2 separate regions of the Homo sapiens genome follow, and region 2 is linked to region 1. The links come from fine-mapping of genetic effects on plasma protein levels. Region 1 holds a variant in brackets. A gene starts in the other region. All regions are shown on their forward strands.

Region 1 (14,575 bases):
TTCTTTTGACACAGGGTCTCACTTTGTTGTCCAGGATGGTCTCAAGTGAGCCTCCCACCTTGGCCTCCATGTGCCAGGCATTGTGCCAAGCATTCTACAGGCATGAGCCACCTTGCCCAGCCTGGTTTTATATTTTCCCTTTTTGGTTTTAGACATCGCAATACCTCTGGCATTCTTTCTATTCCTCAAACACGTCAGCTCCTCTGCCCTCAGGCCTTCATCCTTGCTCCTCTCTCTGCCTGTTATGCTCCTCCCAGATATTTGCACACAGGGATTTCTTCACATTAAGCTTAGATGTCACCTCTTCCCACATACCCCTCCTCCAGGCACACGCCATTACATCATCCTGTTTTGCTAGCGCCAAGGCCCTATCACTACGATCTGGTTCACTCATTGTTTTCTTGTCTATGTCTTCCTCCATCGCCCTGAGGATAAGCTCTGGCCAGTCTCTGTTAAACCTCAGCCCCTAGTGCAGTGGCTGGCACAGGGGACGTCCTCAGGAAGCATCTGTTGAATGAATGAATAGATATGCCCCGGTCATGGGCCATGGAGTGAGGAAAAGGCAAGGCTAAGAGTGGTGTGCTTCAAGTGACACTTCAAATTAGGACAAGTTAATATTTGTTGAGTTTTTACCATGTGCCAGGCATTGTGCCAAGCACTCTATAAGGCTTATCTCATTAGTCCTGATAATAATCCTATGAGGCAGGTATTTCTATTTTCTATTTATGAGATAAGGAAAGCAAGGTAGAGAGATAAAGGAAGCTGCCCAAAGGTCTCCTTTATCCCAGTTAGAAAACGGGCTGAGAAGAAACCAGGACCCAGGGGATCTGCTCCTGAGCTGAGGCTCTTAGCCACCACACATACTGCCTCTCAAGGGGAGGAGGGAGGGGGAGAACGGCTATGGCCAGAATAGAGCACCCTTAGAATCCGAGAAGTGGGGTCCTCCCAGGGGAGGAGATGAGGGTGGGGAGCAGGGAGGGGAATGCTCTCCCCTATATGAGGCCGGTGAGGCCCAGAGAGGGTTAGTGACCAGGCCCCAAACGGGCAAGCCAAGCTCCCCAAGCTGCGGCAATTCCACTGTCCCCTTCCACTTTCACTGGGCAGAGACCGCGTGGCGCGCATTGGGCTGGGCGTGATCCTGAACCTGGCGAAGGAACGCGAACCCGTAGAGCTGGCGCGGAGCGTGGCAGGCATCTTGGAGCACATGTTCAAGCATTCGGAGGAGACATGCCAGAGGCTGGTGGCGGCCGGCGGCCTGGACGCGGTGCTGTATTGGTGCCGCCGCACGGACCCCGCGCTGCTGCGCCACTGCGCGCTGGCGCTGGGCAACTGCGCGCTGCACGGGGGCCAGGCGGTGCAGCGACGCATGGTAGAGAAGCGCGCAGCCGAGTGGCTCTTCCCGCTCGCCTTCTCCAAGGAGGACGAGCTGCTTCGGCTGCACGCCTGCCTCGCAGTAGCGGTGTTGGCGACTAACAAGGAGGTGGAGCGCGAGGTGGAGCGCTCGGGCACGCTGGCGCTCGTGGAGCCGCTTGTGGCCTCGCTGGACCCTGGCCGCTTCGCCCGCTGTCTGGTGGACGCCAGCGACACAAGCCAGGGCCGCGGGCCCGACGACCTGCAGCGCCTCGTGCCGTTGCTCGACTCTAACCGCTTGGAGGCGCAGTGCATCGGGGCTTTCTACCTCTGCGCCGAGGCTGCCATCAAGAGCCTGCAAGGCAAGACCAAGGTGGGTGCAGATGTGGGGTTGGGTGGATCAGGGGTTAGAGAGCCTTTGGGAAGGTTTCCCAGAGGAAGTCACATTCAACCGGGTCTTGAAATACACATCAGAATTAGATGAAGCAAGACAAAGGAGGAGCGGGCCAGTCATTTTGGCGTTGAAGGCAAACCCGAAGTTTGGACTTGGTTTTGGGGGCAAGAGGAAGACACTAAGAAGCTTTTAAGCAAGGGGACACTTGTGTTTTACAAAGATCATCCTAGCTGCTGTGTGGAAAGGGGCTTGGCAAGGGTGAGGACGGAGGCAAGGCAACCCAATAAAAAACTATGACTTGCAGGGGTGGGCGTTGGGGGAAGGGGGAGACAGCGATGCCAGTGGCAGAGAGCAGATTCAAGAGATGTTTAAGAGATGGAGTTAGCACTTGGTGGCTGGGAGAAGGAGAAAGAGGAGCTGAGGATGACTCCTGGCCCTGAACATAGGCAATGAATAAAGTGAACTGGGTGAGAGACAAGTGGAAGTGGGGAAGGGGAAGAAAGTGACTTCTGCAGGACATATGGAGTTTGAGATGCCTGAGAGATGCCCAGCTGGGGAGCTTCAGTGGGTAGTGTAGCCTTTTGAGTCTGGAGTCAAGATGGCTGTTAGAGACAGAGGCTTGCGGCTTGGGACAGGACATCAGTGTGTCAGCCAGATAACCCCCATCGGAGTCCCAAGGGGTCCTCATGTCCAGGGCCTAATCCACCAGTGACCTTTGCCCACTGCTTTAACTTGCTGTGTGACCTTGAGCACCTGGCTTCCCCTCTCTAGGCCTCTATCTGGGCCTCATTTTTATCTTCTGGAAAATTCAGTAAATTGGACCACAGCAGCAGTTCTTACCCTAGATGTGGGATAGTTTTAGCACCACAAGTTTGTGGATTGTACTTTTTGGAAACAGAGATCTACTATATTGCCTAGGCTGGCATCAAACTCTCAGGCTCCAAGCGATCCTCTCTGCCTCAGCCTCCCAAGTAGCTGGGACTACAAGCACGCACCACAATCCCCCAGCTGGGCTTTGTTTTTAAAATGTTACAGGTTGAAGATTCTCCCTACAATATCACTCTCTCTTCTTTGCATTTTTTTGTGGAGGCTTGGAGGTTGGTGATAGCTGGTGCACAGAGATGTGGTGCATACCCCATGACCCACCTTGTCTGTACCCCAGCTGTCATCTGGGGGTGCTCAAAGGAGTGTGTCTTACAGATGATTGTCACCCATCATGTATGTCCCTGCAGATCAAAAAGAGACTGCTGGCTGGGTGAGGTGGTTCATGCCTGTAATCCCAGCACTTTGGGAGGCCGAGGCAGGTGGATCACTTGAGGTCAGGAGTTCAAGACCAGCCTGGACAACATGGTGAAACTCTGTCCCTACTAAAAATACAAAAATTAGCTGGGCATGGTGGCAGGTGCCTGTAATCCCAGCTACTCGGGAGGCTGAGGCAGAAGAATCACAGGAACCTGGGAGGCAGAGGTTACAGTGAGCTGGAATCGCACCACTGCACTCCAGCCTGGGCTACAAAGTGAGGCTCCATCTCAAAAAAGAAAAAGAAAAAGGAGACTGCTATGTTAGGGGGGTCTCTGGGGCCTCTTTCAACATCCAGTGTTCTAGGAACTTCTGATTCTTCTCTCTGCACTCCAGAGCTGGGTCAGGGAGGACCTGCTCTACAAGGCAGGTCATTTTGCTTAGGGAAAAGGGTCTTAAAGGAAGTAGGGAGTGAGGACCCCAAGGATTGGATCTGGGCCGCAACCATGATCACCAGCCTGTCACCCCTTTCCCATCGAGGCCAAGTGAGTGTAGTTCAACAAAGACATCTCGAGTCCCACTCTGTGTCCTTCATCGTGCCAGATGCAGGTTTCCAGTAGTGACTAAGACATGTCCTCAGCTTATACTCCAGTGGAAGTTGCATCGTCAACCAGTGACAGTGGCATTCAGAGTGTGGTATAAGACCTCATTGGAGGTGTGGGCCAGGATGTGGGGGAATCAAAGCAGGCTGCATGAAGGAGGTGCTAATCAATTTGGATTCTGGTGGATGAGTAGGATTTCCGTGGAGTGGGAGGATTCCCATGAGCAGACTGGAAGAACTAAGGGTTTGGAAACATAGTGGGCCAAGACCCAGAGGTGTGAAAGCCTTGGAATGTGTGCATGTGCGTGTGTGTGTGAAGTGTAAGTTAGTGGAAGGTGAGGTGAACTGGGAGTGATGGGCAGCTGCACTGTGCCCTGCCTGGCGCTATGCTGAGAGCTCAACTTTATTCCAGGGCCGGTGGATGCTGTAGAAGGGATATAAAGGAGGGATAGGCCCCTCCGCCCCCAACCCATCCGAGTCAGGACCTGGTCAAGAATTGAGAGAACTTCAGGAGGGGGAATCCGCAGGACCCCATGACTTAGTGGCTGAAGGTGGGGCCAGGGCAGATGGAGAGACTTTGGGTTGTGAGAAGAGACAAGGAGAGGGACTGGGCACGTGTGGGAGCACCTGGAGAGCTGGTGGGACCTACAGCCCTCTCCCCACTCCCTCCCTAGGTGTTCAGCGACATCGGCGCCATCCAGAGCCTGAAACGCCTGGTTTCCTACTCTACCAATGGCACTAAGTCGGCGCTGGCCAAGCGCGCGCTGCGCCTGCTGGGCGAGGAGGTGCCACGGCCCATCCTGCCCTCCGTGCCCAGCTGGAAGGAGGCCGAGGTTCAGACGTGGCTGCAGCAGATCGGTTTCTCCAAGTACTGCGAGAGCTTCCGGGTAGAGTCGCGTGGGATACGCCTCCCCCGAGTCAGAGCGGGCGCCCTGTGCACAGGGACTGCGTTCCCTCCCCGCCTCGCAATCCCGCGGCGCCAGGGTCGCTTTTGGGGGCGGGGAGCCTGTACGCAGCCACCGTTAGGGTCACTCGGCTCTGATCTAGGTCCCATCCGCCTCCTCCACGCCATCTCCAGTTCCTTCCCTTGCATCTTGTGCTCGAGGTCCAAGGGCGGAGTAGCGAAGCCCTTCCTGACACCCGACTCCTCCCCCAGGAGCAGCAGGTGGATGGCGACCTGCTTCTGCGGCTCACGGAGGAGGAACTCCAGACCGACCTGGGCATGAAATCGGGCATCACCCGCAAGAGGTACGGAGCCTCCTGCCCGCCGGACCCCAGCTAGGTCTAAATAAGCTCCCCCTCCGCCCACAGCCCGTCCGAGTCTGGACCTCAGCGTCTTCTCCTCCGTGGGGTGCAGGTTCTTTAGGGAGCTCACGGAGCTCAAGACCTTCGCCAACTATTCTACGTGCGACCGCAGCAACCTGGCGGACTGGCTGGGCAGCCTGGACCCGCGCTTCCGCCAGTACACCTACGGCCTGGTCAGCTGCGGCCTGGACCGCTCCCTGCTGCACCGCGTGTCTGAGCAGCAGCTGCTGGAAGACTGCGGCATCCACCTGGGCGTGCACCGCGCCCGCATCCTCACGGCGGCCAGAGGTCAGCCCGCTCACCCGGGACCCCGCCCCAGCCCCAGCCCCAGCCACGGCCCTGGAATGGTGAGGGGAGACACGGGGTGGAGCCTTCCAGCCTCGCCGTGGATTGATTGAGCACAAACGTGGGTCACACTGGGCTCTGAGGATGTAAAGATGAATACGTTGCACTTTACCTCAAGAAGTTCCCAGTCTGAGGTGGGTAGGCGGTGGGAGGAAGGAGGCTATTAAACAGGCAAGCGGCCCCGGCAGGAAGCTACCCAGGTCTCCAGTGGGAGCACAGAGGAAGCCCAGCCCACCCCATCCACCCAGGTCTAGATTTCAGAGAGGACAGGATGCCTGACCATGTCTTGAGAGGTGCACTGGCGGGGAGGGGTGGCAACAGGAAGGGCAGCCCAGGCAGAGGCAGCGGCCTATGGAGAGTCCATGCAGTGGGGTGTAGGCGGGAAGGGTGTGCGTATGTGTGTTATCCTATTGGCCAACAGCTTACAAAATTTGGGTCTAGAGGTGGTTTAGAGTGAATTCTAGGCCTCTAGCCACCCTCCTTATTTACTAATTTATTTTTACTTACTAATTTACTACTTAGCTAATCTTTATTGTCAATTACAAGGTACTCTGTTTGGTTTTTAAGATATTATCCCATCAGTCTCTATATTGATTCTATGCAATGAGTGTTCAGTTTTTAAAATCAACCTTAAAGAACTCTTGAAAGAATAAAAAGAGGAGTAAGTGTCCAGTTTGAGGGCCGGGCACCGTGGCTCATGCCTGTAATTCTAGGACTTTGGGAGGCCAAGGCAGGCGGATCGCTCAAGTCCAGGAGTTTGAGACCAACCTGGGCAACATGGTGAAAGCCCATCTCCACTAAAAGCACAAAAAAATACAAAAAATTAGCTAGGTGTGGTGGCGCATACCTGTAGTCCCAGCTACTTGGGAGGCTGAGGTGGGAGGATCACCTGAGCCCAGGAAGTTAAGGCCGCAGTGAACTGTGATCAGGTCACTACACTCCATCCAGCCTAGGCAGCAGGAGTGAGACCCTATCTCAAAAAAGAAAAAAAGTATCAGTTTGAGGAGTTTTGAAAGACATCTGTGTGACCCCCCACCCCCACCATCATCATTAAAGATATAGAATATTTCCATCATGGGTGTTCCTTTTAAAGATAATGAAACTAACATTTAAAGAATTCAAATACATTTCCCACAGTCATAAAAGTCATTAGATGGCAAAACTGGGACTTGAGCCCTTGTCTTTCTGCTTCATAAACAAACAAATGTTGTCTATGAGGGTTATGTCTAAATATTATAAGAAGATGAATTCTTTTCATTTTATCCTTTCATTCAGCAATTACAGACTAAGCACCCACAAGACACAAGGGACTGAGCTTTGGCTGCATTCTTATGCTTCAACCAAAGCAGGTTGGCTTTTATTATTTTTACATTGCAGCTCCCATTAAAACTTCAAGATTTCATTTTTATTATAATTAATTAATTTGAGACAAGGTCTCATTCTGTCACCTAGGCTGGAGTGCAGTGGCGCAATCACAACCCACTGAAGCCTCAACCTCCCGGGCTCAAGTGATTCTCCCACCTCACCTCCCAAGTAGCTGGGACCACAGGTGCGCAACACCACACCCAGCTAATTTTTTTATTTTTTGTGGAGACAGGGTTTCACTATGTTGCCCAGGCTGTTCTCAAACTCCTGGCCTCAAGCAATCTTCCCAACTTAGCCTCCCAAAGTGTTGAGATTACGGGCGTGGGCCACCGCACCCAGCGCAAGATTTCATTTTTAAACAACAGGAAAATCCTAGGGCAAAAATAGCTTACAAAAAATAGTTTGTATAGTGAGTAGGGAGCCATGCATAGTTTTTAAGTGGGAGGAATGACATGCTCAGATTTGGATTTTAGAAAGATGTTCTGGTAGCTGTGGCAAATGGACTACACTGGGCAATTCTTTTCTTTTCTTTTCTTTTCTTTTTTTTTTTTTTTAGTCAGAGTCTCACTCTGTCGCCCAGGCTAGAGTGCGGTGGTGCATTCTTGGCTCACTGCAACCTCTGCCTCCTGGGTTCAAGTGATTCTCGTGCCTCAGCCTCCCAAGTAGCTAGATTACAGACATGTGCCACCATGCCTGGATAATTTTTTGTAAAGACAGGGTTTCACCATATTGGCCAGGCTGGTCTCGAACTCCTGGCCTCAAGTGATCCACCCACCTTGGCCCCCCACAGTGCTGGGATTACAGGTGTGGGCCACTGCCCTGGCCTAGACTGGGCAATTCTAGCTGGGTTTGGGGAGGCCATTGAGGAGGCTGGCATTGGAAACCTGAGCCAGGGAAGGGCCCGGAGGCTGGAGTCCAGTATGTTTAGTAGGTAGAATCCTCAGAATGCGGTGCCTGGCGCTTAGTACTGAGCGTGGCTCCAGAGGAGCAGAGTGCTGTCTGTTTTACTCACTGCTGAATCTCAAGCACTGAAGACAGTCCTGGCACACAGCAAGTGCTTAGGATGTATTTGTTGAATAAATTAAATGGGAGGCAGGAGTTGAGGCTGATACCCAGGTGTCTGGCTTTGGTGGGAAATAGGGAAGAAGGAATGAGGGGGAGATTTGGGGTGTGTTGAATTTGGAGTGATTGTGGGCAGCTGGCTGTTCAGGTCTGGAGTTCCAGAGAGAGGTCAGGGCTGGAAGTGCATGCATATCAATGTCCCTAGAACACAGTGCCTGCCTCCTAAGAGGAACCCAACAATAACATGACCTTCCTCCTGGAGGCCCCATTTCTCCTTTTTGGGGCAGGCCACCCTCCCCAGGCTGGGCTGAGAGGGCTTGGTGGACTGGGGACTAAGTCCACAAGGGATGATATACCTGACAGTGAGTGATGCGGAGGGGCCACCTTCACCATGCTGCCTATTGCCCACTTCAGAAATGCTACACTCCCCGCTGCCCTGTACTGGTGGCAAACCCAGTGGGGACACTCCAGATGTCTTCATCAGCTACCGCCGGAACTCAGGTTCCCAGCTGGCCAGGTGAGGAGGGGCGGGCGGGCAGCGACGGGGCGTGGGGACAAGGCTGTGGCACTGACACAGGACTTACTTGCAGTCTCCTGAAGGTGCACCTGCAGCTGCATGGCTTCAGTGTCTTCATTGATGTGGAGAAGCTGGAAGCAGGCAAGTTCGAGGACAAACTCATCCAGAGTGTCATGGGTGCCCGCAACTTTGTGTTGGTGCTATCACCTGGAGCACTGGACAAGTGCATGCAAGACCATGACTGCAAGGATTGGGTGCATAAGGTAGGTGCCTGCCTATGCTTCTGCGGTCCCAGCATTGGCCTGTGGTCCAGAAGATAGGGTCGTCTTCTATTCCTTCTTGTCTGCACATCCCGGCACACTTAGCCCTGAAGCACCTCCTTGGCCCAGCTGGAAGTCAGGAACCACAGCTCTGACTGTAATAGGACTTTAGCAAACCACAAGGGACAAGAGACTAGGCTTTGGCTCTCTGAGCCTCAGTTTTCTTTTTCTTTTTTTTTTTTTTTTGTTTTTGAGGTAGAGTCTCGCTCTGTCACTCAGGCTGGAGTGCAATGGCGTGATCTTGGCTCACTGCAAGCTCCACCTCCCGGGTTCACACCATTCTCCTCCCTCAGCCTCCCGAGTAGCTGGGACTACAGGTGCCCGCCACCACGGCTGGCTAATTTTTTTGTATTTTTAGTAGAGACAGGGTTTCACCGTGTTAGCCAGGATGTGAGCCTCAGTTTTCTTTTCTGCAAAATGGGGTAACTTACCTGTTCCACTCACCTTATAGAACTGTTGTGAGGATCAGAGAGACATAAAAATGCTTTGAAAAATAAATTCCATGAGAGACAGGAGAGCATAGCGACAGGCAGAATGGAATAGTTGTTGAGAGCTCAAAACTGAGAGTTTGAATCCTGGCTCTGGCCTTGGGCAAGTTACTTAACCCCGATAAGCTTCATATTTATTTCTGGAAAGAGGGTATAATAATAGTATCTAACTCCCTAGAACATTGTTATAAGGACTAAAAAAGCCAAAATTTGTGAAGTGCTTAGCAGAATGGCTGGCACATAGTAACTGCTCAATAATGGTAGCAATTATTATTATTAATATAATTATTATAACTACTATATCTGTTTAATTCATCATTGTATTTTCAGTGCCTGACGCATTGTAGGAACTTATTGAATACTAACAGAATGCATTGATGGATAGCTCCATATTGCATCTTCAGGTTATTAATCATTAATCGGTCAGTAGGAATTGGAGTTGGGGCTGAGGGATGCAGTAGTCATCTAAGAGACAGGATGAGACAAGCAGTCAGCTCAGAGACAAGAATATGCCCAGAGGGCTGGGCACAGTGGTTCACACCCGTAATCCCAGCACTTTGGGAGGCTGAGGCAGGAGGATCACTTGAGGTCAGGAGTTCGAGACCAGCCTGGGCAACATGGTGAAACCTTGTCTCTACTAAAAAAATACAAAAATTAGCCAGGCATGGTGGCGCACACCTGTAATCCCAGCTACTCAGGAGACTGAGGCAGGGGAATCGCTTGGGCCCAGAAGACGGAGATCACACCACTGCACTCCAGCTTGGGCAACAGAGTGGGACCCTGTCTCAAAATGACTAGATCGCATACAAGTTGGTGTAAATGCTGAGCCAGGTAAGCAAACATCTTGCTTGCCACAGGGGTTTGGAGAAGGGAGAGAGCATCAAGGTGTCAACGAAAAGAGTCAGACTCTATGAGCGACCATGGCCTGTGACACAGCCCTCAGGAGACCCTGAGAACACGTGCCCAAGGTGATCAGGGCACAGTTTGGTTTTATACATTTTTGGGAGACACGAGACATCAATCAATACATTTAAGATGTACATTGGTTTGGTTCAGAAAGGCAGGACAGCTCAAAGCAGGGGCTTCCAGGCTATAGGTAAATTTTAAATTTTTCCAGTTGATAATTAATTGAGTTTATCTGAAGACCTGGGATCAATAGAAAGGGAATGTTTAGGTTAAGATAAAGGGTTGTGGAGACCAAGTTTTATTGTGCAGAGGAAGTTCTCAGGGCAGACTTCAGAGGGAGTAGGTTATAAAATGTTTCTTATCAGACTTATAAGGGTGCCTGGCTCTTTGTTGATTATCTCCTGAGTCCGGAAAGAAAAAGAAAAAAATGGGGGGAAGGGGATTCTCTATAGAATGTGGCCTTTTCCCACAAGAGACAAACTTGTGGAGCAATTTCAAGATATGGCAGGGAAATATATTTGGGGTTAAAATATTTTTATTTCCTCCCTTATTATGTGATGTTATGCTAGAGTCAGGTTAGAAAGCAGACCACGCTATATAGGGTTAAAATTAAAACCTCCTCCGATAAGACTTTATGGTTTGTAGGGCATGACTCCCTAGGCTCCTTAGGTAGGAATTTGGGCAAGATAAAAAAAAAAAAAATCAGAGTTTAGTCCTCAAAGGACTGGAATAATCAGGGAAGACTTCATGGAGGAAGCAGGTCTTGAGAAGAATCTTAAGAATCTGGGTAAGTGGAATAGAAGGCATCCCAGGCCAGGGTAACAGCATGAGCAAAGGAATAAAGGTAGGGAGGAGAACAGTGCTGAAAGCCCACATACATCTTGGTACTGCTTTCTCCATATCACAGATGAAGAAACTGAGGCTCAGAAAAGTAGAATAATGTTCCCCTGGCTGCACTACTAGTGTAGAAATCAGAAAAGCTAGGCTTCAAATTCCATCTATCTGACTCCAAAGCTCATCACTTTCCCAAGATCCACACTGCATTCTATGGCACAGCTCTGAGGGGGTGTGAGGGGAGGTGATGGGGTAGGGCTGGATTCGGTTGACACCAGAGATGATTGTATCTCTTCACAACTCCACATCCAGTGATGTCATGTTGGTAGCTTGTCATCAGCCATGGTGGGAGTATTTACACCAAGGAAATTGGCAACCACTACAAATCAAAGTTTTGTTAGTTTGGTTGATTGGCTGGTTGGGTTTTCTTCCCCCATGAATAGCTAGTTACTATAAAGTTAGCAGCACACCACTGGCTGGATAAGAACCATGGAAACCAGGTAAAGCAGTGTCTAAAGGCAGGAGAAGACCTGTGCTTAAAGCACTGGAAATCAAGGAGCCCATGAAGGAGAAGATGCCAGGGCGGTGGGTCTTAGGATGAAGGCTCTGACACTGGAATGCAGTCCACATGGAGTGTGGAGTCAAGCCCCAGAGGCCATGTAGGAGGGGCTGAGTACTAGGCCTGGTTTGGGGAGGGGCACTGGGGCAGTTGAGCATCCAGGAAGAACATGGCTGATAACCCAGAGCA[C/T]GTGGCAGGCAGCCTTTTGAGAGAAAGAAAAGAGTGTCTGTGAGCTCCATGAGACTTCAGACCTTGCCTCATTCATCTGTGTCCCTGGTGCCTAAAACCATGCATGGTACAAAGGAGGCTCTATGCAATTGCACCAAAAAAAAAAAAAAAAAAAAAGAGAGAGAGAGAGAGGCTGAGGCTGTAGAGGAGTTTATAGAACAATTGAATCAATGATTAAGCAGACAAGTGATACTGATGAAGCTGAGATGCCATGCCTGGGAGAGCCATACATATCTAGTAGATTTACCAGGTTAGAGGACTTGACTCCGTTTTTTTTTTTTTTTTTCCAGTAGAGATAGGGTTTCGCTATGTCACCCAGGCTGGTCCCGAACTCCTGAGCTCAAGCCTGGAGTTCAGTGCCTGCCTCGGCTCCCCAAAGTTCTGGGATTAGAGGCATGAGCCACCGTGCCCAGCCAGAGGACTTGACTCTAATTGTTTTCGTTCTCAACCAGCTAGGTGATCCTGAACAAACCATTATCCCTTTCTTTTATTTATTTAATTATTTTTTTTTTTTTGAGGCACAGTCTTGCTCTATCACCAGGTTGGAGTGCAGTGGTGAGATCTTGGTCGGCTCACTGCAACCTCCGCCTCCCGGGTTCAAGTGATTCCCCTGCCTCAGCCTCCTGAGTAGCTGGGACTACAGGCACACGCCACCATATCCAGCTAATTTATATATATATATTTTTAGTAGAGACGGGGTTTCACCATCTTGGCCAAGATGGTCTCGATCTCCTGACCTCGTGATCCGCCCGCCTTGGCCTCCCAAAGTGCTGGGATTACAGACATGAGCCACCACACACGGCCGCCATTATCCCTTTCTTGGCCAGCCTCTGAATCTGTGCGATGAATAATTTGTACTGTCTTTGGTTTTGTATAATTCTGGATGAAACAAATTTCTAAAAATTTCCAAATAAATTGCTGCAGGCTCAGGATTCATTCCAATGCTCAGCAGAAAGGCAGCAGGGCTTGGCTGAAACAGCCTGGACTTGGACTCTCGAGGCTTGAGTCAGAGGACCGGCCCCTCGTGGGCTGGGCGTGTGTGTGGCTTAGGAGGAAATCCCTTCCTCTCTGGGCTTTTTTCTCTCCATCTGTAAAATGGAGCGGCTCCCCAGGAAGCCAGTCAAGGACGAAGTTACGCATGTTCTTTCCCCAGGAAGGCTCCACTTCCCAAGAATGCTTGGCACCCCTTGTCGTCCCAGCAGATGGCAAAGAGGTGAGAGGAGCCTTTGTCTTGGACCGGCCCCAGAGGCTCCGTCATCCCTCTTTGGTTGTTTCTGGTGCTTAATTGCCTCTGGTTTTAAAACTCCTTTCCCTGAAGCCACATTAGTGGGTAATCAATAGGGAAAAACCACAAGTGAACTGCACTCAAAAAAGTAAAATCCCTTTGGTTCCCTCTTGAGAGGAAGAAAAACATTCAATAAGCACTTAATGGAACCCGATTACTAGCAAATAATTCCTCAGAACAACGCTTTGAGGTAGGTTTTATTATCCCCACTTTACAGAAGAGGAAATAATAACACCTATTACGTATTAAGCATACACTGCATGCAAAGCACTGTTCTAATTACTTGCCATGGAATGTTGCGCTTATTCCATGGAACAATCCTGAAGACAGGGACTATCATTAATCCTGCTTTATATATTAGAAAACAGAGGAACGAGTGTGGTAGTGCAGGCCTGTGATCCCAACACTTTGGGATGCTAAGGTGGGAGGATCACTTGAGGCCAGGAGTTTGAGACCAGCCTGGGCAACATGGTGAAACCCCATCTCTACTAAAAAATACAAAAAATTAGCCGGACATGGTGGCACACGCCTGTGGTCCCAGCTACTTGGGAGGCTGAGGTGGGAGGATGGCTTGAGCCCAGGAGGTTGAGGCTGCAGTGAGCCTTGATGGTGCCACTGCCCTCCAGCCTGGGCAAAAAGTGAGATCCTGTTCCCCTGCCCCCCGCCAAAAAAAAAAAAGAAAGAAAGAAAAGAGAAAACAGAGACTTTGAGAACCTATTATTTTTGCCTCAGGTCGTAGAGCCTGTGTCAGAGACTCAGTGCAAACCCCGATTTGATGATTCCAGAGTGCAGCCCTAACTGCTGTGCTATGTTTTCTCATTCATTCATTCATCCATCTATTAAATATTTAGCAAGGGCTAACTATAAGGGCTTTGTGAAAGATGCTGAGATATAAGGTCAGTGAAAAATAGATATGATCCCTCCTCATGTCTGGCAGAGAAGACAAATACTGAGTAATTTACCCATTAATTAATTAAAATTTGCAACTATAATATGTTCTGCAGAGCCTATAATAGGGGAACTGACTTGGTCAGGGCAGTGGGAGACAACTGCCCTGTGTAAGAGTTGATTGAGCTCAGATCAGAAAAATGAATGGGCATTATCAAGGGGGAAGGACAAGGAAGCTTATTTTGTGTGTCTGGGAGGACAGGGCAGGGGTAGAGTTTGAGAAGTGGACTGTGGCCAACCACATAGGGTCTCACAGGCCACATGAAGGAGTTTGGACTTTATTCTAAGACCATGCAAAGTCTTGAAGAATTTTAAGTAGGGGGTGACAGGACCTAATTTGTCAGATGTGCATTTTGCAAATATTAGCTACATGAAAGGGCAATGTGGAGAGTGAATTAGAGAAGACAAGCGTGGATGAGGAAAGACCTGGTGGGGGCTTAAAGATAATGGGGATTGGAAGAGGGTGGTAGTGGGGTGGAGGTAGGGAAAAATAGTGGATTTGAGAAATAAGTAAGGAGTACAATTGGCAGGGCGCATGATGGATCAACCTGTACGCAGGAGTGTGATGTTTTTCTTCTGACACCAAATTGTTTGGGGTTTTTCCCACACTAACCACTAATTCTCCAGCTTGCCAACACCAACTGGGTATCCCGCAATTCAATTCAATTCTGAAATGTCAGTCACGAGGCCCAGGCCCCCAGGCTGCCACATTTCTGTTTGATTTGGCTACAAATTCGGGGGTGCCCATGACACCCCGAGATTCAATTTGCCAGAATGACTCACAGAACTCAGGAAAGCACTTTACTTACTATTAGTTGTTTATTATGTC
Region 2 (14,733 bases), not on the chromosome of region 1:
CTGTAGCCCTGTAGTATAGTTTGAAGTCAGGTAGTGTGATGCCTCCAGCTTTGTTCTTTTTGCTTAGTATTCTCTTGGCTATGCAGGCTCTTTTTTGGTTCCATATGAACTTTAGTTTTTTCCAATTCTGTGAAGAAAGTCATTGGTAGCTTGATGGGGATGGCATTGAATCTATAAATTACCTTGGGCAGTATAGCCATTTTCATTATATTGATTATTTCTATCCATGAGCATGGAAAGTTCTTCCATTTGTCCTCTTTTATTTCTTTGAGCAGTGGTTTGTAGTTCTCCTTGAAGAGGTCCTTCATATCCCTTATAAGTTGGATTCCTAGGTTTTTTATTCTCTTTGTAGTAACTGTCAATGGGACTTCACTCATGATTTGGCTCTCTGTTTGTCTGTTTATTGGTGTATAGGAATGCTTGTGATTTTTGCACATTGATTTTGTATCCTGAGACTTTGCTGAAGTTGCTTATGAGCTTAAGGAGATTTTGGGCTGAGACAATGGGGTTTTCTAAATATACCATCATGTCATCTGCAAACAGGGACAATTTGACTTCCTCTTTTCCTCACTGAATACCCTTTATTTCTTTCTCTTGCCTGATTGCCCTGGCCAGAACTTCCAACACTATGTTGAATAGGAGTGGTGAGAGAGGGCATCCCTGTCTTGTGCCAGTTTTCAAAGGGAATGCTTCCAGTTTTTGCCCACTCAGTATGATATTGGCTGTGGGTTTGTCAAAAATAGCTCTTATTATTTTGAGATACGCTCCATCAATACCTAGTTTACTGAGAGTTTTTGGCATGAAGCACTGTTGAATTTTGTTGAAGGCCTTTTCTGCACCTATTGAGATAATCACGTGGTTTTTGTCATTGGTTCTATTTATGTGATGGATTATGTTTATTGATTTGCATATGTTGAACCAGCCTTGCATTCCAGGTATGAAGCTGACTTTATCATGGAGGATAAGCTTTTTGATGTGCTGCTGGATTTGGTTTGCCAGTATTTTATTGATGATTTTCACATCTACATTCATCAGGGATATTGGTCTAAAATTCTCTGTTTTTTGTTGTGTCTCTGCCAGGCTTTGGTATCAGGATGATGCTGGCCTCATAAAATGAGTTACGGAGGATTCCCTCTTTTTCTATTGATTGGAATAGTTTCAAAAGGAAGGGTAGCAGCTCCTCTTTGTCCCTCTGTTAGAATTCAGCCTTGAATCCATCTGTTCCTGGACTTTTTTTGGTTGGTAGGCTATTAATTAGTGCCTCAATTTCACAGCCTGTTATTGGTCTACTCAGAGATTCAACTTCTTCCTGGTTTAGTCTTGGGATGGTGTATGTATCCAGGAATTTATCCATTTCTTCTAGATTTTCTAGTTTATTTGCATAGAGGTGTTTATAGTATTCTCTGATGATAGTTTGTATTTCTGTGGGATCAGTAGTAATATCCCCTTTATCACTTTTTATTGCGTCTATTTGATTCTTCTCTCTTTTCTTCTTTGTTAATCTTGCTAGTGATCTATCAGTTTTGTTGATCTTTTCAAAAAACCCGCTCCTGGATTCATTGATTTTTTGAAGGGTTTTTTGTGTCTCTATCTCCTTCAGTTCTGCTCTGATCTTAGTTATTTCTTGCTTTCTGCTAGCTTTTGAATTTGTTTGCTCTTGCTTCTCTAGTTCTTTTAATTGTGATGTTAAGGTGTTGATTTTAGTTCTTTCCTGCTTTCTCTTGTGGGCATTTAGTGCTATAAATTTCCCTCTACACATTGCTTTAAATGTGTCCTGGAGATTCTGGTATGTTGTGTCTTTGTTCTCATTGGTTTCAAAGAACATCTTTATTTCTGCCTTCATTTCTTTATTTACCCAGTAGTCACTCAGGAGCAGGTTGTTCAGTTTCCATGTAGTTGTGCGGTTTTGAGTAAGTTTCTTAATCCTGAGTTCTAATTTGATTGCACTGTGGTCTGATAGACAGTTTGTTCTGATTTCTTTTCTTTTACATTTGCTGAGGAGTGCTTTACTTCCAACTGTGTGGTCAATTTTGGAATAAGTGCTATGTGGTGTTGAGAAGAATGTATATTCTGTTGATTTGGGGTGGAGAGTTCTGTAGATGTCTATTAGGTCTGCTTGGTGCAGAGCTGAGTTCAAGTCCTGGATATCCTTGTTAACCTTCTGTCTTGTTAATCTGTCTAATATTGACAGTGGGTGTTAAAGTCTCCCATTATTATTGTGTGGGAGTCCAAGTCTCTTTGTAGGTCTCTAAGGACTTGCTGTATGAATCTGGGTGCTCCTGTATTGTTGCATATATATTTAGGATAGTTAGCTCTTCTTGTTGCATTGATCTCTTTACCATTACGTAATGGCCTTCCTTGTCTCTTTTGATCTTTTGTTGGTTTAAAGTCTGTTTCATCAGAGACTAGGATTACAACCCCTGCTTTTTTTTTTTGCTTTCAATTTGCTTGGTAGATCTCCCTCCATCCCTTTATTTTGAGCCTATGTGTGTCTCTGCACATGAGATGGGTCTCCTGAATACAGCACACTAATGGGTCTTGACTCTTTATCCAATTTGCCAGTCTGTGTCTTTTAATTCGCGCATTTAGCCCATTTACTTTTAAGGTTAATATTATTATATGTGAATTTGATCCTGTCATTATGATGTTAACTGGTTATTTTGCCCGTTAGTTGATATAGTTTCTTCCTAGCATCGATGGTCTTTACAATTTGGCATGATTTTGCAGTGGCTGGTACTGGTTGTTCCTTTCCATGTTTAGTGCTTCTTTCAGGAGCTCTTGTAAGGTAGGCCTGGTGGTGACAAAATCTCTCAGCATTTGCTTGTCTGTAAAGGATTTTATTTCTCCTTCACTTATGAAACTTAGTTTGGCTGGATATGTGATTCTGGGTTGAAAATTCTTTTCTTTAAGAATGTTAAATATCGGCCCCCACTCTCTTCTGGCTTGTAGAGTTTCTGCTGAGAGATCTCCTGTTAATCTGATGGGCTTCCCTTTGTGGGTAACCCGACCTTTCTCTCTGGCTGGCCTTAACATTTTTTCCTTCATTTCAACCTTGGTGAATCTGATGATTATGTGTCTTGAGGCTGCTCTTCTCAAGGAGTATCTTTGTGGTGTTCTCTGTATTTCCTGAATTTGAATGTTGACCTGCCTTGCTAGGTTGGGGAAGTTCTCCTGGATAATATCCTGAAGAGTGTTTTCCAACTTGGTTCCATTCTCCCCATCACTTTCAGGTATACCAATCAAATGTAGATTTGGTCTTTTCACGTAGTCTTGTATTTCTTGGAGGCTTTGTTCATTTCTTTTTACTCTTTTTTCTCTAAACTTCTCTTCACCCTTTATTTCATTAATTTGATCATCAATCACTGATACCCTTTGTTCCACTTGATCGAATTGGCTATTGAAACTTGTGCATGCAACACATAGTTCTCATGCCATGGTTTTCAGCTCCATCACGTCATTTAAGGTCTTCTCTACACTGCTTATTCTAGTTAGCCCTTCGTCTAATCTTTTTTCAAGGTGTTTAGCTTCCTTGTAATGGTTTCAAACATCCTCCTCCTTTAGCTCAGAGAAGTTTGTTATTACCAACCTTCTGAAGCCTTCAGCTCATCAAAATCATTCTCCATCCAGCTTTGTTCCATTGCTGGTGAGGAGCTGCGATCCTTTGAAGGAGAAGAGGTGCTCTGGTTTTTAGAATTTTCAGCTTTTCTGCTCTGGTTTCTCCCCACCTTTGTGGTTTTATCTCTCTTTGGTCTTTGATGTTAGTGACCTACAGATGGGGTTTTGGTGTGGATGTCCTTTCTGTTGATGTTGATGCTATTCCTTTCTGTTTGTTAGTTTTCCTTCTAACAGGTCCCTCAGCTGCAGGTCGGTTGGAGTTTGCTGAAGGTCCATGCCAGACCCTGTTTGCCTGGGTATCACCAGCGGAGGCTGCAAAACAGCAAATATTGCAGAACAGTAAATATTGCTGCCTGATCCTTCCTCTGGAAGCTTCATCCCAGAGGGGCACCCACCTGTATGAGATGTCAGTTGGCCCCTACTGGGAGATGTCTCCCAGTCAGGCTACACGGGGGTGAGAGACCCACTTGAGGAGTCAGTCTGTTCATTCTCAGAGCTCAAACACCATGCTGGGAGAACCACTGCTCTCTTCAGAGCTGTCAGACAGGGATGTTTAAGTCTGCAGAAGTTTCTGCTGCCTTTTGTTCTGCTATGCCCTGCCCCCAGCAGTAGAGACTACAAAGGCAGCAGGCCTTGCTGAGCTGCAGTGGGCTCTGCCCAGTTCAAGCTTCCCCAGCCGCTTTGTTTACCTACTCAAGCTGCAGCAATGGCAGACGCCCCTTCCCCTGCTAGGCTGCTGCCTCACAGGTTGATCTCAGACTGCTGCACTAGCAGTGAGCAAGACTCCATAGGCGTGGGATCCACCGAGCCATGTGCGGGATATAATCTCCTGGTGTGCCATTTGCTAAGACCTTTGGAAAAGCACAGTATTTGGGGGAGAGTGTCCCGTTTTTCCAGGTACAGTCTGTCACGGCTTCCTTTGGCTAGGAAAGGGAAATCCCCCAACCCCTTGTTGTTCCCAGGTGAGGCAATGCCCCACCCTGCTTTGGCTCGCCCTCTGTGGGCTGCACCCACTGTCCAACCAGTCCCAATGAGAAGAACCAGGTACCTCAGTTGGAAATGCAGAAATCACCCATCTTCTGCGTGGATCATGCTGGGAGCTGCAGACTGGAGCTATTCTTATCTGGCCATCTTGGAATGGAGAGAGCAAAAATATTTCTAAATAACACATGGACAGAGAAACACTGTAATAGTGGACTTTAGAAAATGTTCCAAACTGACAATTACAAAAATACAATACAGCCAAATGTGTGGGACAGAGCTACAAGGGTGCTTATAGGAAATGCAAAGCTCTAACTGCATTTCTTATAAGATAGGCTGAAAGTTGACTTCGAGTAAGACAGCAGCACATAGCTCCCACTGGGCAGCCTGGCTTGGGGCTCCCTAGTAGGGATGGTTTTTGAGGGGGACCTTGTCATAGTTCTGGGGTCATGTGGAGGACACTCTGGTGTTACTGTTTCCAGTGCACCAAGGGTGAGTGTCTTCTGGTTACCTAGCTACCTTGGCCCAAGCATTCTGGAGCCTGGGAGACTGGGAGCCAGGAGATAGGTGGGAGGAGGGGCAGGCCCCAGGTAATAGGAGAGCAGGGCTAAGGAACAAAGATAGCCAGCCTGAGGCAGCTCCCTCAGCCTCTGTGCTGAGAAATCTCGTACTCCACTTCTCCGCCCTGAGAAAGCTTGCTGTCTGGAATCCTGTCGCCTGCAGATGCTCAGCCATGCAGGCCACTCCACACAGAGAAGCAGCCTGGAGCTCTCACCTTGGCTCACAGCCTCAGATAAGGGGCTTCCAGATACAACATGGTGCATTTGTCTTGAGCTCGGGCCCCCAAGTCAGCCTCTCAGCCCAGTGTGATGTGTCACCCTGTGACCCACAGCCCTGCTTTCAGCCTGTCAGAAACGGCTTCATTTTAAACTTCACCTGAACTCCTCCCTTCTCCGCAATCCTGTCTATCCCATGCTGAAGGCAGGAGGCCTCTGATGTGGCTTCCTCGCTGCAGTTACTAACCCTCACTTTGTCGTGGACAGCTGTGCCCTGGCGCCATTCACTGAAGGGGCTTTATCAGTCTTCAGAAACACCCTTCCTGAGCGTGAGGTGCTGGGCTGTAAAATATACATACATTCTTTAAAAAGGCAAATGCTTGATGATACAGTGCTATTTGGACTTCATTTTTTTGAACCTTTGCAATGCCCTTTCTCAACAAAACAAAACAAAATTTGACTTGGATTCTTAGATAATGGAATTGGCTGCAGGAAGCATTTGTTTTATCACCCCTTGAATGTTAACAATAACCCTGAGAGAGCTATCTGTACTGAGCATGAAGGAAATAATATATACAGTGGTCCATTTCCAAGACAAAGTGCCTTGAATTGGTTTAGGTCAGCAAACTACAGAAGAAACAGGATACACTAGGCCCCTGCTTGGATAGCCAATGCCTGCTTGTCGCCTCCCCACCCTCCACCCTACCCCACTGCCTTAGTTGCCCTCACCCAAACCAAAGGAGTTTAGTCTAAGATGAAAGTTTACTAGCTTGCAAAATAGCTCACTTTGTCTGTTCTTATCAGCCTGCCCAGATACTTAGGTCATAAGTCAAGTACTTGAAGAGCCCTTGAGCTAACTAGGATTGCAATGTATTATGGCTGCAACAAAATGCAGCAGAACAATCCTAAAGAAAATGCCTAAAACCCCTACCCAACAACCAATAGGCAATGTCCAGGAAGACTGTGACCCCATAGTACTCAGCCTATGAGGAACCAAGGGAGGGACCTGCACACTAGGGGATAAATTGCTTTTGAAACTGTACTGGGTGTGCCTGCCCATCAGACACCCGATCTTGCAAGATTGTCATTAAAGTCTCGCTTCCACTGTTCTCTGGGTCTCTGAGCCCAAACTTTGGGTTTGGACCAGTGAGTTTGTTTCTCACAGCATGACCTACTCTCCACCATGATGTGCAGCATTGCAGTGAGCAGAGAACAGCCTCCCTTCCCACTCACCCACCTGCCTCTTGGTTAGACATAAGTTCTCTTGTAACTTCTTTTGCTTCATTTATTTTAAATAAGAATAATAAAGTTTTAGTCTTTAATTTAAAAAAAGAAGATAGGCTAAAAATTAATATGTGTTCAGCTTAAACTAGAAAATTTTAAAAAACAACACACTCTAAGTACAAAGAAAGAAATAATAAAGATGAAATAAATTTAAAAATATTAAACAAAGATACAGAGGAGTTCCACAAAGCCAAAAGTTAGCTCTTGGGGAAGAGAAGTAATAAAACTTAGGCATTTCTGGAGATGCTGACCAAGAAAAAAAGGAAAATTTACAAATTAATTATTATGAGTGAAATGGAGGCTATCGCTGCAAATGCTAAGAAGATGTGAATAATGTTATACCAGTAACACTGAAAACTTAGGTGAAATGTGATGATTCCTTTAGAAAGATGCCAAAACTGCCTGCGAAAGAAGTAGAAAGCTTGATTAGAAATAGAATCAGCAGTTTAAAATATTTCACACAGAAAACAGAAATATTCCATCAAATATTCAAGAAATAGAAACTTCAAAACTTAAACCCATTTAGAAGATTTAAAGGCAGAAAATCTCCAACTCATTCTGTAAGGCTAATTTAATCTTGATAGTTTCTAAACAAGTACTATATTAGAAAGAACATTAGAAGCCAATCTTTTTGTGAATGTAGGAGCAAAGAACCTAAACACAATGTTAGCAAGTCAAATCCAGCAATGTATTTTAAAAGTATGCTTATTTGGGAATGCGGGAATGATTCAACGTTAGAACTTATCATATTAACAAATTAGTGGGCCGGCGCGGTGGCTCACGCCTGTAATCCCAGCACTTTGGAAGGTTGAGGCAGGTGGATTGCCTGAGGTCAGGAGTTCGAGACCAGTCTGGCCAACATGGTGAAACCCCGTCTCTACTAAAAATACAAAAGAATTAGCTGGGCATGCCAGCGTGTGCCTGTAATCCCAGCTACTTGGGAGGCTGAGGCAGGGGAATTGCTTGAACCAGGGAGGTGGAGGTTGCAGTGAGCCAAGATCATGCCACTGCACTCCAGCCTGGGTGACAGAGCGAAACTCCATCTCAAACAAAAAAGAAAATTAGTGGAGAAAAATAATAATATCATGTATAGATGAAGGAAATGCACAAAATAAAACTGAACATTCATTAATGATTTTTTAAAACTCTTAAACTAGAAATAGAAGAACATTTTCTTAATCTGGTAGACGACAACCTATACAATGTAAAATGCTAAAGGCCCTCATGGAGAGAAGACAGTCCATTAACAGCTACTCTAAATGGGACAATCTGTTCACACCAGTCTCCCCCTACCAGGACAGTCGACCAATTGCCAAGAACAGTATTACCTGTTTTACAGCTGCACTTCATGTGGTCCCAACAAGACTATCACTACAGTGCAAGATGACATCTGTTGGATCATCCATCGGGAAGCTAAAAGAGACCACACAATGGCCCATGTGGCAGGCAGGAATCATAAATGCCAAGTTCTCTTGGGGAAGAGTAGGGTTTCCCTCACATTTTTTCTTGTTTGTAGTAGATTTTGGAAAATGGAAGGCTAGCCATGAGCAGGGAAGATCTGACTTTTTTGGTGAGTTACAGGAAAAATATTTGGTAGAGAAAGCAGTGATTTGTGGTTATAGATTTCAGGGAACCAAAGGAAGAAATCAGAGCAGTGGCTAAGATGTTTTGTTTGATATTATTAACAAATGACCTATGAGTGATGGTATCTTAGGTTGAATTCTTCCAAAACAAATTCTAAAGAATGATTTGAGTGCAAGTAGTTTATTTAGGAGGTGACACCAGGAAAAACCAGTAGAGGAGTGGGGCAGTGAGACAGGGAAGGGAGGAAAGCCAGTGTGGGTTACCGCTCTGGACCACTGTGTTCAATGCCAAGTAGACATGCCGGAGAGTTGTCCTGAGTGGAAAGGGAGCCAGGGTCTTTGCACCTGACATGGGCTGAAACTGCTCTCAGAAGCATTACCTCCTGGCACTTCCTCTGCCAAAAGAAGGCCCTGCTGTGGAGAGTCACGGGAGCACACAGTGGGACAGACACAGGCAGGAGGCCTGGCAGCCTCTGCTACAGAGACACTGCACAGTCCATGTTCTGTTCCTTCACTGAGCAGACAGCTTTGCAGCTGTCCTCCTGGACTTTTGTGAGTAGGTGGACACATGTGAGCAAGCCACACACAATAGAGGGCTTCCTCCACTATTACTCAAGTTAGGTAAATTGAGGCAGCTTGGTAACTCACCAACCTCTTCTAAAACATTCTCACCCCCAAAAAGCAGGGCCAGGCACTCCCCCCTGCTGTCAGAACACTTGCATACATGTTCTGCTGGAGCCCATGTCTCAGTTATCTGCTCCTGCATTCCTAGGGCGGGTGCCAATTGGCTTCCTTCACCTTCTGCCTGCAGGGCTGAGCTGCTTCTGGCTGACAAGTGAAAACATTAGAAGCACCCTCATCAATCCATCCATTTCTTCAAGAAATATTTTATATGTTGACTTCATTTGAGTTTACCCAAAGGCAGTTTGAGTCAAGAGCTTAGATGCAGGTAGTTGACCTGGGAGGTGATTCCCAGAAGCAGGAGAGAGAGAGAGAGAGAGAACCGAGAAAGATCGGAGGACCAACCCAAGGGGGCATTACTGAGCTGATCACCACTAAGGGTCACTGAGGCTCACTTCTACTGAGGACTCAGAATTGGTCCTCTGGGGACAGAAGGCTGAGGTATATATCCCCAGTTAATTAAGGGTTGCTGTGAAGGAGGTTCACTGTGCATTGGTTACCAACATGTCTGTGTCCAGTGAGAGAGAACGCATTCATACTCAATAAGTTATATGAAGCAAATTTATTACTTACAGACAGGCAGCAAGGGACAAGAGGAGCATTCATTGCAAGCTGGTTGCCTGAGGCTCAGGAAATCTGCTCAGGGCAAATGGAGTCTCAACTGGGCATGCCCCACTTGCACCACAGACGAGGAATGCCAGAGAGCAGCCTGCCCTGGGTTTAACATCCCAGGGTAATGTGATTTGCTGGGCAGTGTTGAAGGACATCCTATTTTCAGCAGGAGACTGGAACTGACCTTGGGCTGTTCAGCCAGTTCTCCCTTATCTCAAGATGCTGCAATCCTAGCACATTCTGCAGTTATTCCTGAGAACTACATGGTAAAAAGGGGACTGGGTCTGTCCAAGGCCACCCAAACTGCCCTGCAGTTGCCCCGGGGATGTTAAATTTCCCTGAATTCCAGGCTGCGCCTGCTCCCAAGGCTTCCGGAGAAAGTCGTAAGATAAGCCCTAAAGAGGACAGCAACGAGATGCTTGAGGTGGCAGCATTCAGGGGAACTCTCCACAACAATCAGAGAGCTGACGGCAGAGGCAGGCAAGGGACATTAGCACCAATAATGTATGCTACAGGCACCTACCATGTTCTAGACAGAGTGCCAGACATGCAGCAGTGAGCAGGACAGACCAACTTATTTGTTCTCATGGAGCTTCATTTCAGTAGTGGAACAAAGAATTTACCAATAAACAAGTCAGCAAACAAGTAATGACGGGTGTTGTGTCTTTGCAAAAATTATGACAATAAGAAAAATATGACATAGGAAAATTACAACAGTGAAAGAAAGCTGGCCTAACCGACTCCATCTTCTAACCTCCAATCTGCCTTTGCACATTCCTGGGCATAGGCCAAACAAATCTGTGGAGAAACTTAGTTTATAATTTCACTTTAAACCAAATATAACAGCCCCCCCCTGAAACAAACCTCCTTCTTGCTTGGGGACCAGACCACCTTTGTGAAACTAACAAATTAGCCACAAGATTAAAATTTATGGGCCGGGCGCGATGGCTCACACCTGTAATCCCAGCACTTTGGGAGGCCAGGGTGGGCAGATCACCTGAGGTCAGTAGTTCAAGACCAGCCTGGCCAACATGGTGAAACCCTGTCTCTACTAAAAATATAAAAATTAGCCGGGCGTGGTGGCAGGTGCCTGTAATCCCAGCTACTCAGGAGGCTGAGGCAGGATAATTGCTTGAACCCGGGAGGCAGAGGTTGCAGCGAGCCGAGATCACACCATTGCACTCCAGCCTGGGGGACAAGAGCAAGACTTCATCTCAAAAAAAAAAAAAAAAAAAAATTATGGCTTAGGAGTCATGCAGCCCGAAGCCACAAGATTCCTAACCTCCATAATTGCTCCAATAGATAATATTACTATTATATAACATAAGATTGGTGTTCAAGGTATTTTTCAGACCCCACATTGTGATGGACTAGCCACCCAGACTGGTAAACTGGCTATCTCGTCTTGTGACCCCAACCCAGGAACTAACCCAGAGCAAGACGAAAGCTTCATCTCTTCAGGATTTCATCCCTAACCCAACCAATCAGCACTCACCATTCCCTAGCCCCCTGACTGCTAAACTATCTTTTAAAAACCCTAGCCTCCAGACTGGCACAATCCCAGCACTTTGGGAGGCCAAGGAGGGCAAATCACTTGAGAGCAGGAGTTCGAGACCAGCCTGGCCAACACGGTGAAACCCCGTCTCTACTAAAAATACAAATAATTAGCTGGGCATGGTGGTGTGCGCTTGTAATCCCAGCTACTTGTAAGGCTGAGGCATGAGAATCGCTTGAACAGGAGGTGGAGGTTGCAGTAAGCCTAGACTGCACCACTGCACTCCAGCCTGGACAACAAAGCAAGACACTGTCTCAAAAACAAACCCCCCCCAAAAAATTCCTTAGACTCCGAATTTGAGGAGAGGCTGATTTGAGGAGTAATAAGCCTCTGCTCTCCTGGTTAGCCAGCTCTATGTGTATCGAACTCTTTATTGCAATTCCCATCTTGAAAAATTGGCTCTATCTGGGCGACAGGCAAGAAGAAGCTGTTGGGTGGTTACAGTGTGATGAGTGCTATGAAGGAAATAACATAAAAGGTGACAGAGAATAACTAGAGGAGGCCATTCTAGATAAAATGGTCTGAGGAGGTGACATTTGAGCTGAGTATTAAACATTGAGAAACAATCTACGAAGGGAAGATGTGGTGCAAGACCTTTCCAAGCAGTGTATAATACACACAAAAGCCCATGCCAGCAAAAAGATTTTACTTTCACAAATTCTAGAAACTCTAAGAGTAAAAAGTGGTGAAAAGAAAGGAAGTGATAACACATGTTGCCAAGTGCAGCAGGCAGAAACAGGGCCATCACCACTTCACGACAGGATCTCAAAATACTAGGAAGTGTAAATTAAAACCATGAGATATAGTTTTGTCATTATTGGATTGGGAAAGATCCAAAAGTTTGGAAAGACCCCACTGGTGAAGATGTGTGGAAACCCACAGTCTTACACATTATTTGCCAGAGTGTAAATTAGTACAGTGTCTAAGGGGGGCAATTTAGCCACGTTTGGCTAATATATTATTTTAAAGGACATATCCCACCATAGCCAATTCCACCTCTAAGAATATTTCTGACAGATATACCCACATGCATGCACAAAGACAATCCACGGGATCCAGTCACATTATTCCTAACCCAAAGCAACTGGGAAACACTTCAAGGTCCATCAGTGAAGGCCCGCATAGGCTAACCTCTGTAATAACCAAATCTCAGTGGCAGTGTCCAACCAGGTGCTTGTGGGCGACCTTCCAACAGGCACCGCATTGCCCGGCTGCCAGGCCGGGCCTGTGTACTGTCCCCGCATCCCATACAGCTAGCACTTATTCACCCTCAAAAGCGTCCCATCCTGAAAATAAACTCTTGCCCACTTGGTGCTTCAGGAACCTGGGCTTCTTCCACTAATAGCTCTCCCAGATGCCCCAGTGCGCAGGTGGGGCCGTCCTCTAGGACCAGGCCTGGCTGGGGCGCACCCACACCTCCTTGGCCAGACGCCATGGGCCGGGAAGGGGCTCTGGCCCTTGCGGGAATGAGGGCGCCTAGCATAGGTGTGCAAGTGGGCAGCCCCCACCGTGGGGTCCTTAAGTAAGCTGGAGCCTGTGAGCCAGGACAGTCAGGAGTTGCAACCTTGGTGATTTCTAGGAAGACAGAAAATGGGGTCAAGGGCCGGGTGTGGTGGCTTATGCCTATAGACCCAGCACTTTGGGAGGCCGAGGCAGGCGGATCACCTTAGGTCAGGAGTTCGAGACCAGCCTGACCAACAGGGCGAAACCTCGTCACTACTAAAGGTACAAAAATTAGCCAGGCGTGGTGGCGCACACCTGTAATCCCAGCTACTCAGGAAGCTGAGGCAACAGAATCGCTTGAACCCGGGAGGCAGAGGTTGCAGTGAGCTGAGACCACATCACTGCACTCCAGCCTGGGTGAGAACCTGTTAAAAAAAAAAATAAGAAAATGGGGTCAAGAAACGGTGGGAGGAGGGCAGATTTCATGAACCTGCCTGCTATGATGTGGCTGCATTTCCATCATGCATTGTCCTAAAAAAAGAAAAAGAAAAAAATAAAATGTAGACGTGGAGGGATGGGGGAAATTGCACAGGCCGGTCCAGGCTGTGAGGCTGCCCCCTACCAGGGACGACGAGGGCCAGCTCCGCCGCGCCGTAAGGAAACTGGCCAAGGGAACCCCTTGAATCTGGCGAGGGCCCGCCATGAGACGCTCGGGGAACCAGACTGCCGAGCCCCCCTCTCTGGGCCGACGCCAGCCCGGCTGTGGACTGGAGAAAACCGCAAGGCCACCTGCAGAAAGAAAAGAAGGCCATCGCGCCTACGCAGCTGAGCACCCATACTCCGCCCGCGCCTGCGCAACTGGGTCCCCCGACCCCCACCTCCTCTCCCGCCTGCGCATGCGCGGCTGGGTGCGCCCCCCCGCCCAGCCTGTGACGCCACGTGCATGGGGCGGAGCCCAGGCCCTAGGGAATCGTGGGGTCGTATCCCGCGGGTGGAGGCCGGGGTGGCGCCGGCCGGGGCGGGGGAGCCCAAAAGACCGGCTGCCGCCTGCTCCCCGGAAAAGGGCACTCGTCTCCGTGGGTGTGGCGGAGCGCGCGGTGCATGGTAAGCGGCGGGCCGGGGCGCTGGCGGGGGCGGCCGGGGATCACCGACTGTAGGCGGGCCTCCCCCACGCGGGCGCGCTGCGCTCCGGAGGACGGCCTCGGGGTCACTCGCACCCCGGGTCCCACCTCCTGCTGCCTTCCTGTCCAGGCTCCATTAGGGCTCCCTGGATGTCTGGGCTCCGCTGACCGGTGGGGGGCAAGTCCAGTGTTTTGGGCCACAGGGCGGGCCAAATAGCAGGGGCCTGTAGCCCCAGGGGGCCCCAGCCCTGCTGCGTTCATTCATTCAGCCCGCTTTTGCGGACCCGCCCCCAGTCTGCGTCAGGGACAGACCCCTCCGCCCTGGATGAGCCCGGCGGGGAAGCTTCGCGTAGCAGTTTCTGGGAAACAGGTAGGATCAGGCCGCTCGGACAGGACTGAGGGTGTAAGGACGATTCACCCTGGCATTGGGGTGGTGTCCCGAGGAGCTCATAGGTGGTCAGGGCGGTTCTGCCCGAGCTGACCTGTGAGCCGCGAATGCCCTGGACCGAGGGAGGGAGAGCCCCCTAGGTGGACAGACTAGACTCCTTCAGTGGAAAACATTCAACAGCCAGGAGAGCGTGGAAGAGGAAGGAGAGATGGGAGGGCCCAGGGGAGCGTGGAAGGGAGGGTGTTTTTATTATAAGTGCACCTGTAAGTGCAAAGTGCAAAGGAAGCAGCCGCCGGGAAGTGCCTGGGCAGCTCTGGGTGTCCCTCCAGGCACCTGTATTCCAGCCTTACCTGCGCGAAGCCACACATCCCACGTCACACAGGATACGGGGAAGTCAGCCATAGCCTGCAGGCGGGGAATCTGAAACCTCGCGCAGGAGTTCCTTGGGAGAGGTGGATTACAAGGACTCTTCCTCCCACCCGCTGTGCAAGAGCCATGGGCGGCCGGTAGTCATTTTTGAAGGACCTGGCAAGCACTGTACAAATCTCAAAATTGCTTTTTGTCCCCCTCCCCTTGCCTTGGAGAGAGTGGCTGGCTAGTGTGTGTGTCGTCTGCCTCCTGAAGGTTCGGGTAAAGGACCAGGGAGGTGGGCAGCCCTTTGTGTCAGGAGATCTGGAAGCGCCTCCCCTCCCAC

Direction of the effects. Positions count from the first base shown, and alleles are read on the strand shown. Strength reflects both the effect of a copy and how common the allele is.
As copies of C replace T in region 1, the plasma level of the protein whose gene starts at base 13,479 in region 2 goes up (strong association).

The links. PIP is the posterior inclusion probability: the model's chance that the variant is causal. Protein levels are from antibody-based Olink assays in UK Biobank. Linkage for the fine-mapping came from a reference panel and not from the study's own genotypes, which makes the PIPs less certain.
Region 2: ENTPD6 starts here. The variant in region 1 is fine-mapped to the plasma level of the ENTPD6 protein (UK Biobank, PIP above 0.99).

Annotation. Positions count from the first base shown.
Region 1 is chr17:28,380,099-28,394,673 of GRCh38, forward strand. SARM1 (sterile alpha and TIR motif containing 1) reads left to right here. Exons shown (of 9, transcript NM_015077.4): 2 at 1,105-1,723; 3 at 4,259-4,471; 4 at 4,741-4,832; 5 at 4,942-5,177; 6 at 8,076-8,178; 7 at 8,252-8,441. SLC46A1 (solute carrier family 46 member 1) reads right to left here. Exons shown (of 5, transcript NM_080669.6): 5 at 14,544-14,575. Among named protein-coding and RNA genes, the nearest start is that of SARM1, 16 kb to the left of the region's middle. RefSeq lists a silencer at 1-158 and an enhancer at 4,849-4,918. The variant C/T (reference allele first, on the strand shown) is at 11,475.
Region 2 is chr20:25,182,234-25,196,966 of GRCh38, forward strand. It overlaps ENTPD6 (ectonucleoside triphosphate diphosphohydrolase 6), which reads left to right and starts at 13,479. Exons shown (of 15, transcript NM_001247.5): 1 at 13,479-13,634. It overlaps LOC101926889 (a long non-coding RNA gene), which reads right to left and starts at 14,659. Exons shown (of 6, transcript NR_109994.1): 1 at 14,390-14,659; 2 at 7,985-8,069; 3 at 5,620-5,714; 4 at 4,664-4,746; 5 at 4,309-4,466; 6 at 2,439-3,927. RefSeq lists enhancers at 12,935-13,174, 14,025-14,094, 14,475-14,624 and a silencer at 13,315-13,734.